Regions from separate parts of the Homo sapiens genome. Here region 2 is linked to region 1. A link means that fine-mapping ties the variant in region 1 to the expression of a gene that starts in the linked region. Tissue or cell type: testis. Region 1 holds a variant in brackets; the other region holds the start of a gene. All regions are shown on one strand. Distances are between the middles of the regions.

Evidence for each region. PIP is the estimated chance that this variant, and not a neighbour inherited with it, causes the effect.
Region 2: it holds the start of OOEP, and the variant in region 1 is fine-mapped to the expression of OOEP in testis (GTEx, PIP above 0.99).

Annotation. Positions count from the first base shown.
Region 1 is chr6:73,392,249-73,396,973 of GRCh38, forward strand. It overlaps DDX43 (DEAD-box helicase 43), which reads left to right and starts at 2,580. Exons shown (of 17, transcript NM_018665.3): 1 at 2,580-2,907. The coding sequence starts at 2,658. It overlaps LOC124901538 (small nucleolar RNA U13), which reads right to left and starts at 1,765; the gene lies at 1,665-1,765. It also overlaps a transcript of OOEP not described here. RefSeq lists an enhancer at 2,197-2,697. The variant G/T (reference allele first, on the strand shown) is at 2,328.
Region 2 is chr6:73,367,982-73,371,981 of GRCh38, forward strand. It overlaps OOEP (oocyte expressed protein), which reads right to left and starts at 1,916. Exons shown (of 3, transcript NM_001080507.3): 1 at 1,622-1,916; 2 at 1,225-1,404; 3 at 574-882. The coding sequence starts at 1,811. The coding sequence ends at 803. It overlaps OOEP-AS1 (OOEP antisense RNA 1), which reads left to right and starts at 1,723. Exons shown (of 2, transcript NR_174946.1): 1 at 1,723-2,104.

The DNA.
Region 1 (4,725 bases):
ATTTCAGATTAAAGATTAGAGAATGGAGATTAAATGCCTATCATTTATTTAATGTTTTTTTATCTTTTTTTTGAGATGGAATTTCACTCTTGTTGCCCAGGCTGGAGTGCAATGGCGCAATCTTGGCTCACTGCCAACTTCTGCCTCCCAGGTTCAAGCAATTCTCTCACCTCAGCTTCTCAAGTAGCTGGGATTACAGACATTCGCCACCATGCCTGGCTAATTTTTTGTATTTAGTAGAGATGGGGTTTCACCACGTTGGTCAGGCTGGTCTTGAACTCCTGACCTCAGATGATCTACCCACCTCAACCTCCCAAGGTGCTGAGATTACAGGTGTGAGCCACCGCGCCTGGCCTATTTCCTAGGTAATCTTTTTTTTTTTTTTTTTTTTTTTTTTTTTGAGATGGAGTCTCTCGCTCTGTCATCAGGCTGAAGTGCAGTGGCACAATCTTGGCTCACTGCAACCTCTGCCTCCCGGGTTCAAGCAATTATTCTGCCTCAGCCTCCCAAGTAGCTGGGACTACAGGCGCACACCACCACGCCCAGCTAATTTTTGTATTTTTAGTAGAGATGGGGTTTTACCATGTTGGCCAGGATGGTCTCGATCTCTTGACCTTGTGATCCAGCCGCCTCTGCCTCCCAAAGTGCTGGGATTACAGGCATGAGCCACCACATCCAGCCAATATTTTTTGCATTTTTATTAGAGATGGGGTTTCACCATGTTGACCAGGCTGGTCACGAGCTCCAGACCTCAAGTGATCTGCCTGCCTCACATTCCCAAGGTGCTGGGATTACAGCCATGAGCCACACCATGCCTGGCCTGGTGTCCACTGTGTTTGATGGATGATTGAACTGAAAAAAAAAAAATTTTTTTTTTTTGAGACAGGGTCTCTGCTCTGTTGCCCAGACTGGAGTGCAGTGACACCATTTCGGCACTTCGGCTCACTGTAGCCTCAACCTCCCTGGCTCAGTGATCCTCCCACCTCAGCCTCCTGAGTAGCTGGGACTACAGCCTGTACCACCACACCCGGCAGGGTCTCACTATGTTACCCAGACTGATGTTGAACCTTGGGGCTCAAGAGATCCTCCGCCTAGGCCTCCTAAAGTGTTGAGATTACAGGTATGAGTTATCCCTGCTGGCCTAAACTGAAATTTGTTCAGATAATTCAAAGATCCTAATCAAAGGAGTGCACTTGCAGCTGGCTTGAAGCCCTGGAGTAGTAGTATGTCCAGCCACAGAGCCAGGCTGCAGTGACGGTAATGCTTCAGGAATCTATTCAATTTATTTCCTTAGCTCTAAAATTATGGCAGGCCAGGCACTGTGGCTCATACCTGTAATCCCTCAACTGTGTGAGGCCAAGGCAGGAGGAGTTGGATACCAGCCCGGGCAACATAGGGAGGTCTTGTCTTTACAAAATAATTAGCCTGGCATGGTGGTGCACACCTGTAGTCCCAACTATTCGGGAGGCTGTGGTGGGAGTATCACTTGAGTCCAACAGGTCGAATCTGCAGTGAGTGATCGCACCACTGCACTCCAGCCTAGGCGACAGAGGTCAAAAACAAAACAAAAGAAAACAAACAAAAAAAACATAGCAAACATCCAGAAGACTGTGTAGAGCAATGAATGTCTCTCAAGCCAGTGATCTTTTTCTCTTCATTTTTCACATCAGGTGGGTAGTGTGCCCACTTCGTAACAAGGTTTGAGGGAGGCACATTTGACACAAGAGCATGAAAACCCAATCACACTTATGACTTACAAAAGGATCAAGTCAGTGATCTTTAAGCTGTGGGCCATTAAATACATTTTGTGAGCCGAGTGCAGTGGCTCAGGCCTGTAACCCCAGCACTATGGGAGGTGGAGGTGGGAGGATCACTTGAGTCCAGGAGTTCAAGACCAGCCTTGGGCAACATACTGGGAACTCCCATCTCTATTAAATTTTTTTTTTTTAATTTTGTGGATTACAACCATTTCAAAAACTAAAATAAGCGTAAATGTATCAAAATGCAGCTTACATAGCGAGGATAAATGCTGTTTTGTCAATCTGTTGTTTCAAGTTTTTTATGTGTGGATTGGGTCACCTTGTAACAGTGACTTACCTTTATGGGTCACGGTTGAAAACATTTCCGGTGCAGTGGCTGACTGTAATCCCAGCACTTTGGGAGGCCGAGGCTGGAAGATCACTTGAAGCCAGAAGCCAAGAGTTCAAGACCTGCCTGGGCAACACGGCGACACCCCGTCTCTATTTAAAAAGAAAAAAAAAAGTTTCCAAGGCACTGAGATGCCAGGAACCCGAGGTGTGTGTCCAGTAGGGGAGGGAGCAAATTGG[G/T]CGTTTGGAAAAAGTCCCACGCCTGGAAAGGAATACACAGTGGGGGGGTGGGGGGCGGGGCACATCGACTACTTCAAGGCACACTCCCACGGTTCAGAAAACCGATTGGCTAAAACTGGGAAAGTCCCGCCCACAACGCTCACTGGCCAATGGCTGCGTGAAATCAGTGCGAAGTGGGCGGGATAGAGAGCGTGGGCGGGGGGGCTAGCCTCGTGCGGGCTCCTTAAGTAGCGGCTGCGTGGCTTCCCTGGCACGCTACTCTTACGACGTCACGGTCAGGTGGTGCAGAGCTGGACGGCAACGACGTCGGACGCGCCCCTTCTTGGAACAATGTCCCACCACGGAGGAGCTCCCAAGGCCTCTACGTGGGTCGTTGCTAGTCGGCGAAGCTCGACAGTGTCCCGAGCGCCAGAGAGGAGGCCGGCGGAGGAGTTGAATCGAACAGGTCCTGAGGGATATAGTGTCGGCAGAGGTGGTCGCTGGAGAGGCACCTCTAGGCCCCCGGAGGCCGTGGCCGCTGGTCACGAGGAACTGCCGCTGTGTTTTGCTTTGAAGAGCCACTTTGTTGGCGCGGTAATCGGTGAGAATGGGAGTGGCTGGCAGGGCAGGATAGGTGGGGCCAGGGGCGGAGCCTGGGCGAAGGCATTTCCTCCCCACTGCCTCACCTCCAATCAGCTGCCACCTAGTGAGGTTCAGGTCTCTCCCAGAGCTATTTGTAAAACCTGGGGATAGAGTATAATTTAATCTGGCCGGGCGCGTTGGCTCACGCCTGTAATCCCAGTATTTTGGGAGGCCGAGGCGGGCGGATCACCCCAGGTCAGGAATTCGAGACCAGCTTGGCCAACATGGCAAAACCCTGTCTCTACTAAAAATATATATATTAAAAAAAATAGCTGGGCGTGGTGGCGCGCGCCTGTAATCCCAGATACTCCGGAGGCTGAGGCAGGAGAATGGCTTGAACCCGGCGGCAGAAGTTGGCAGTGAGCTGAGATCGCGCCACTGCACTCCAGCCTAGGTGACAGAGCAAGACTCCGTCTCAATTAAAAAAAAAAAAAAAAAGTAATTTAATCCACCTTTTGGTGTTTATACAGACAATGTATTTGGGAGAGCAACTCCTAGAAGACTTATGAAATCTTAGGGCTGAAGAGGGATGCTTAGAACAGGCCTTTTAACAGACAGCTAACCCCAGAATGAAAAACAAAACTTAATCAGTCTTTCTATGAGTACCATTTAGAGCCAGAAATCAAAGAAAAGCTATAAGGTCATTGTAGGGCTGCCTAGAGCAGTTGTATCTTGCTTTTAGTTTCCTTAATTTTTAAAAAGTTAAAAACTTTTCTTACTACATCTTGAGTGTTAACATTCAATTCTGAATTTTTAATTTTTTTCTTTCTTTTGATTTTTTTTTTTTTTGAGGCAGCTCTGTGGCCCCAGCTGGAGTGCAGTGTGGCGTGATCTCGGCTCACTACAACTTCCACCTCCCGGGCTCAAGCGATTCTAGCACCTCAGCCTCCCTAGTAGCTGAAATTACGTGCGCCACCACACCTGGCTAATTTTTGTGTTTTTAGTAAAGATGAGGTTTCACCATATTACCCAGGATGGTCTCGAACTCCTGTGGATCCACCCACCTCGGCCTCCCAAAGTGCTGAGATTACAGGCGTAAGCCCGGCCCATTTCTGAATTTTTTTGAAAAGCATTTAAAAATGATTAGAATGATTACCCCATTGATTGCCATTAAGCCCGAGTATAAATTGCCACATTTTACCTATTAGGTGTATTTCACCCTTTTTAAAACCTGAGAAAAATGAATAGATGGAGGCTGCTACAAAATAGTGCATTGTAAGACTAATTGCTGTACTACCCAGAGACTCATTGGCCTTTCAGAAGGCTTGGGCTCAGATCTGAAGAATGATGCTCCAAGAAAGAAAGCCACTAGGTTTGCAATAAAAATCACTTAAGTTAATACTTAGCAGATGAAAGGGCACTGTGCTACAGAGCACTCACTTGATGTTGGATCTGGATCCATCTTTTTTATTGTAAAAAATGAAATACCCTCTTTTAAACGTATATCACAATACTAATAATAAGCACAATGTTGTATCCCAGATCTCTGGAACTTGCATGACTAAAACTGTATACTCATTGAACAGCTCCCCATTTTTTCCTGCCCCATCCCAGGGACCCACCATTTACATTGTTTCTGAGTTAGATTACTTTAGGTAATCCATATAAGTAGAATCATGCAGTAATTGTCTTTGTAATTGGCTCATTTCTCTAAGAATAATATCCTCCAGGCTTACCCATTTTGTAGCATGAGACAGGATTTTTTTCCTTACTAAGGCTGAATGGTATTCCATTATTAAGTATATACCTTACTTTATCTATTAATCAGTCTATGATA
Region 2 (4,000 bases), 25 kb before region 1:
AAGGCAGGGCGCCATCCACGAGCCAAGGTGCCTGGGAACCCTGCTCTTCCGTGGTAAATCGAAAACTACCATTAATGAACGCTGACCGCCCAGGCTTGCTTCTTGCAACGTCATCCTCTGCCCAATGGATGCCCCACTCCAGGAAAACGCACAGCTGGTGCTCTTCGGGGGATCAATTACCAGCTTCAAAGTGAGAGCCTCAGATAAGCTGCTTTAGTAGTATGTGTGAGCTCATCAGAAATGAAATTTTAAGCCCCACCCCAAAAGTACTGAATCAGAATTCTCTGGAGAAGGAGCCAAGGAAATTGTGTTTTAACAAGCTCCCAAGGTGATTTCTTACAAGCTTTAAAGTTTGAGGACCAATTATGTAAAAACAAAACAGATCACCATTTGTGAGGTTATCTGCCCCTGCATATCCGCTCCCTGTGGGTGAGGGCCTCTCTCTGACCAGAAAATCATAAAAGGATTAGGAGTTTCAAAATGATGGGAATTCAGGAAAAAAAAACAAAAACAAAAACCTACAAAACTATCACCTGCCCACCCTTCATATCAAAACATGAGTGGGAGTCAATCTTTTATAAATTTGCTTTATTATAAGTGTGTGAAGATCTTAATGCTTTTGGCAAAATAGCCATTTCTTTATTAGAATAGTTCAAACTCACTCTTGCAACAAAATAAACCACAATCCATCAAGACACAGGAAAAAGGAATACGGGGATTTAAGAATGCTATACTTGCTTTTCTTCAACTTTAGCAGCAAAAGTTAGAAAGTTAAGATGTTCCCAACAGTAACTATGTTGTCTTAAGCAACAGGATCCTGGGGAGAGTGGGGGTCTGATGCATGGGCCTTCAAGTTCTTCTCAAGGTGTTTCATCTTCTCAGCTGGAAGAGAAGCAGTTGATACTAACCATGGACAGGGACAAGTGTTTGCTGTTTCGAACTACTCCGTGACTGGGAGTTGGGGAGGAGAGAAAGATCTGCGATAGTGCTGTAACCCAGGTGAGGCTGACTTGGGCAGTGATGGGTCTGAATCTATCAGATCTCTGCTGACTTTCCCAAGGTCCTACCCCAGGATCCCCTCCCAACAAACTTCGTACAGCTAGCTCCCTGGGGTCTGGAAACCAAGAAATTTTGAGAAGGTTAAGGGAGGATGGAAGGAAACCGAGCAAGGCCAGTATGGTCACTCGTGGCTTCCTCCACATGCAGGTTCTCAAAGACCCTCACCTCGGGCACGATGTTCTCGGTGAAACCATGCCAGGCACAGGAGCATGCTCTTCACCCGATTCTGTACACGGGGCCGCCCGAAAACGGTGATTTCGACTAGGTTCCCTGAGTCCACTATGTCCACTGTCAGCAGGGCCTGGCTCGTCCACTCCATTTCTGGAATTATGGCTCGGTCTGGGCCTAAACAAGTAAGGAAAAACTCTGAGGGGCTGCACGGTGGCAGGTTAGAAGCTGGATTTGAAGGGAATGTTGGCCAGGGAAGGGAAGAACTGGAAGGTGGGCATCACTGCAACACTCCTGGCTTGCGAATCTGGGAAAGAGACTGTAGAGAGCTGCTCTGCCAAGCCTCTCTCAGACTGGAGGTGGACAGCCCACTAGCACACCTGGGGTCGCTCACCAAAGAGCTCGTCTGCCAGCCATGCCTCTAGGTAGAACACCAAAGGGTCTCTCAGTTCCTGCACCGGAAACCACCAGGGCCGGATGCGAATCTGTGGCGGCGGAAGTGGTAACCTACGCAGCTGCTCCAGGGAGTGGGCCGGAGTCTGTTTGCCCCGCTGGGACTCAGCGGCACCAGCATCATCGACCATACTGGGACCAGCAGCCGCGGAGCGCGCTCGAGGCGGCTTTCGCAAGACCTCTTCCAGACCCAGGCGCGAAGCTCGGGCTCTCTTTTACCATATTCGACCCGCTCCGCCCCTTCCGGCGGCGCCTCGCACCGCGTCGGGGTGAGCGGGTGCAAGCGACGCCCCGGCATAGCGGCACCATTGGACACTTCCTGCGCTGCTTCAATCGCCGGGATTGCCTCTTTGACCTTGAACTAGTATTCATTTGGCCTCCTGTTGGGTCTCCAATGCTCTCCTTCGTCATCTCTGCTCGTAAGGTATGCTTAGCCTGAAAGTCCTCTGCCCACCTTATAGCTGATTAACAGTGTGAGTTTGAATTGACGACTCTATTAATAGACTGGGAATCACCTTTGCTGGCTAGGTTAAGGTTTCATCGTTGCCTCCCAAAGATAGGTATATCGGACCCAGGGCAGGCTTGTTCAATGTGTCAGTTTTCTCTGTTCTGCTCCCTGTTGTTATCTTCTGACTCTCCGGATGGTTACCATTTTTAAATCATTCAAGCAAGTGTGTCATGTTTTAAACAACACGTCAGAGGTGGTCTTATAGAACATGTAGCAAGTTAGACAATTTTCCTTTATTTCCAGTATCCTAAGACAACCATTATCGATGGACATTTTTTCCCAATGTTTGTAATTTTAATTAAAAATTTGGATTATGAAAGGTTTCACACATCCAAAAAAGTAATATAACACGGCCATGTACCCTCCCCGAGTTTAACAGATGTTGACATTTCCCCACATTTGCCTCACTCCTCTGTTTTTAAAACAGATATTACTCAAGCATCTTTCCTTTCCTTCTCCAGAGGAAATCATCCTGAAGCTAGTGTGTATATATCATCCCCATGCATGTCCTTACACATTTTCTACTATATTTGTAGAAATATTGTTTGGTTGTTTCAGAATAGTATCTGCTGAATATACTATTTCGTTCTTACAATTAACTATGTGTTTGTTTTAAAACTTCTATTTTTCTGAGATAGGTCTCACTCTCTTGCCTAGGCTGGAATGCAGTGGCACGATCTCGGTTCACTGAAGCCTCGACCTCCCAGGCCTAAGCGACCCTCCCATCTCAGCCTCCTGAGTAGCTGAGACCACAGGCACCTGCCACCACACCCAGCTATTTTCCAGCTCTTTTTGTTGTTGTTGTTGTTTGTCTGTTTGTAGAGACAGGGTCCCACTATGTTGCCAGGCTGGTTTTGAACTCCTAGGCTCAAGCAGTCCTCTCACTTTGGCCTCCCAAAGTGCTGGGATTACAGGCGTGAGCCACCACAGCCAGCATAGAAGAAAAAACTCAAAATAGTGAAAAGCATGTTCCAGACTCCACATGATCATCTAGGACTGTGTGGAGGTTCCAGTTTTCTGCCCCTGATCCCACCCCCTCTCACCCTCAATGGTTTCTGAGAAAACTTGACTATCAGGTGTGCAGGGCATACTTACAGGAAAACAAGATTTAGCTATGGCTCTGATGCAATAAACATTTAAAACCTTAACCTGGCCAGGCAAGGTGGCTCATGCCTATAATCCCAGCACTTCGGGAGGCCAAGGCAGGAGGATCACTTGAGGTCAGGAGTTTGAGACCAGCCTGACCAACATGGAGAAAACCGGTCTCTACTAAAAATACAAAAATTAGATGGGTGTGGGCCAGACACGGTCACTCATGCCTGTAATCCCAGCACTTTGGGAGGCTGAGGCGGGCAGATCACCTGAGGTCGGGAGTTCGAGACCAGCCTGACCAACATGGAGAAACCTAGTCTGTACTAAAAATACAAAAGATTAGCCGGACATGGTGGTGCATGCCTATAATCCCAGCTACTCAGGAGGCTGAGGCAGGAGAATCACTTGAACCCAGGAGGCGGAGGTTGTCGTGAGCCAAGATCACACCATTGCACTCCAGCCTGGACAACAAGAGCAAAACTCTGTCTCAAAAATAAAAAAAAATAAAAATAAAAAAATTTGGCCAGTGTGTGGTGGTTACCTGCAATCCCAGCTACTCGAAAGGATGAGGCAGGAGAATTGCTTGAACCCCAGAGGCAGAGGTTGCAGTGAGCCAAAATGGCACCACTACACTCCAGCCTGGGCTACAGAGTGAGACTCCATCTCAAAAAACAAACAAAAACCCCTTAACCTAATCAAGGCCAGATATTGTGGCTCGTG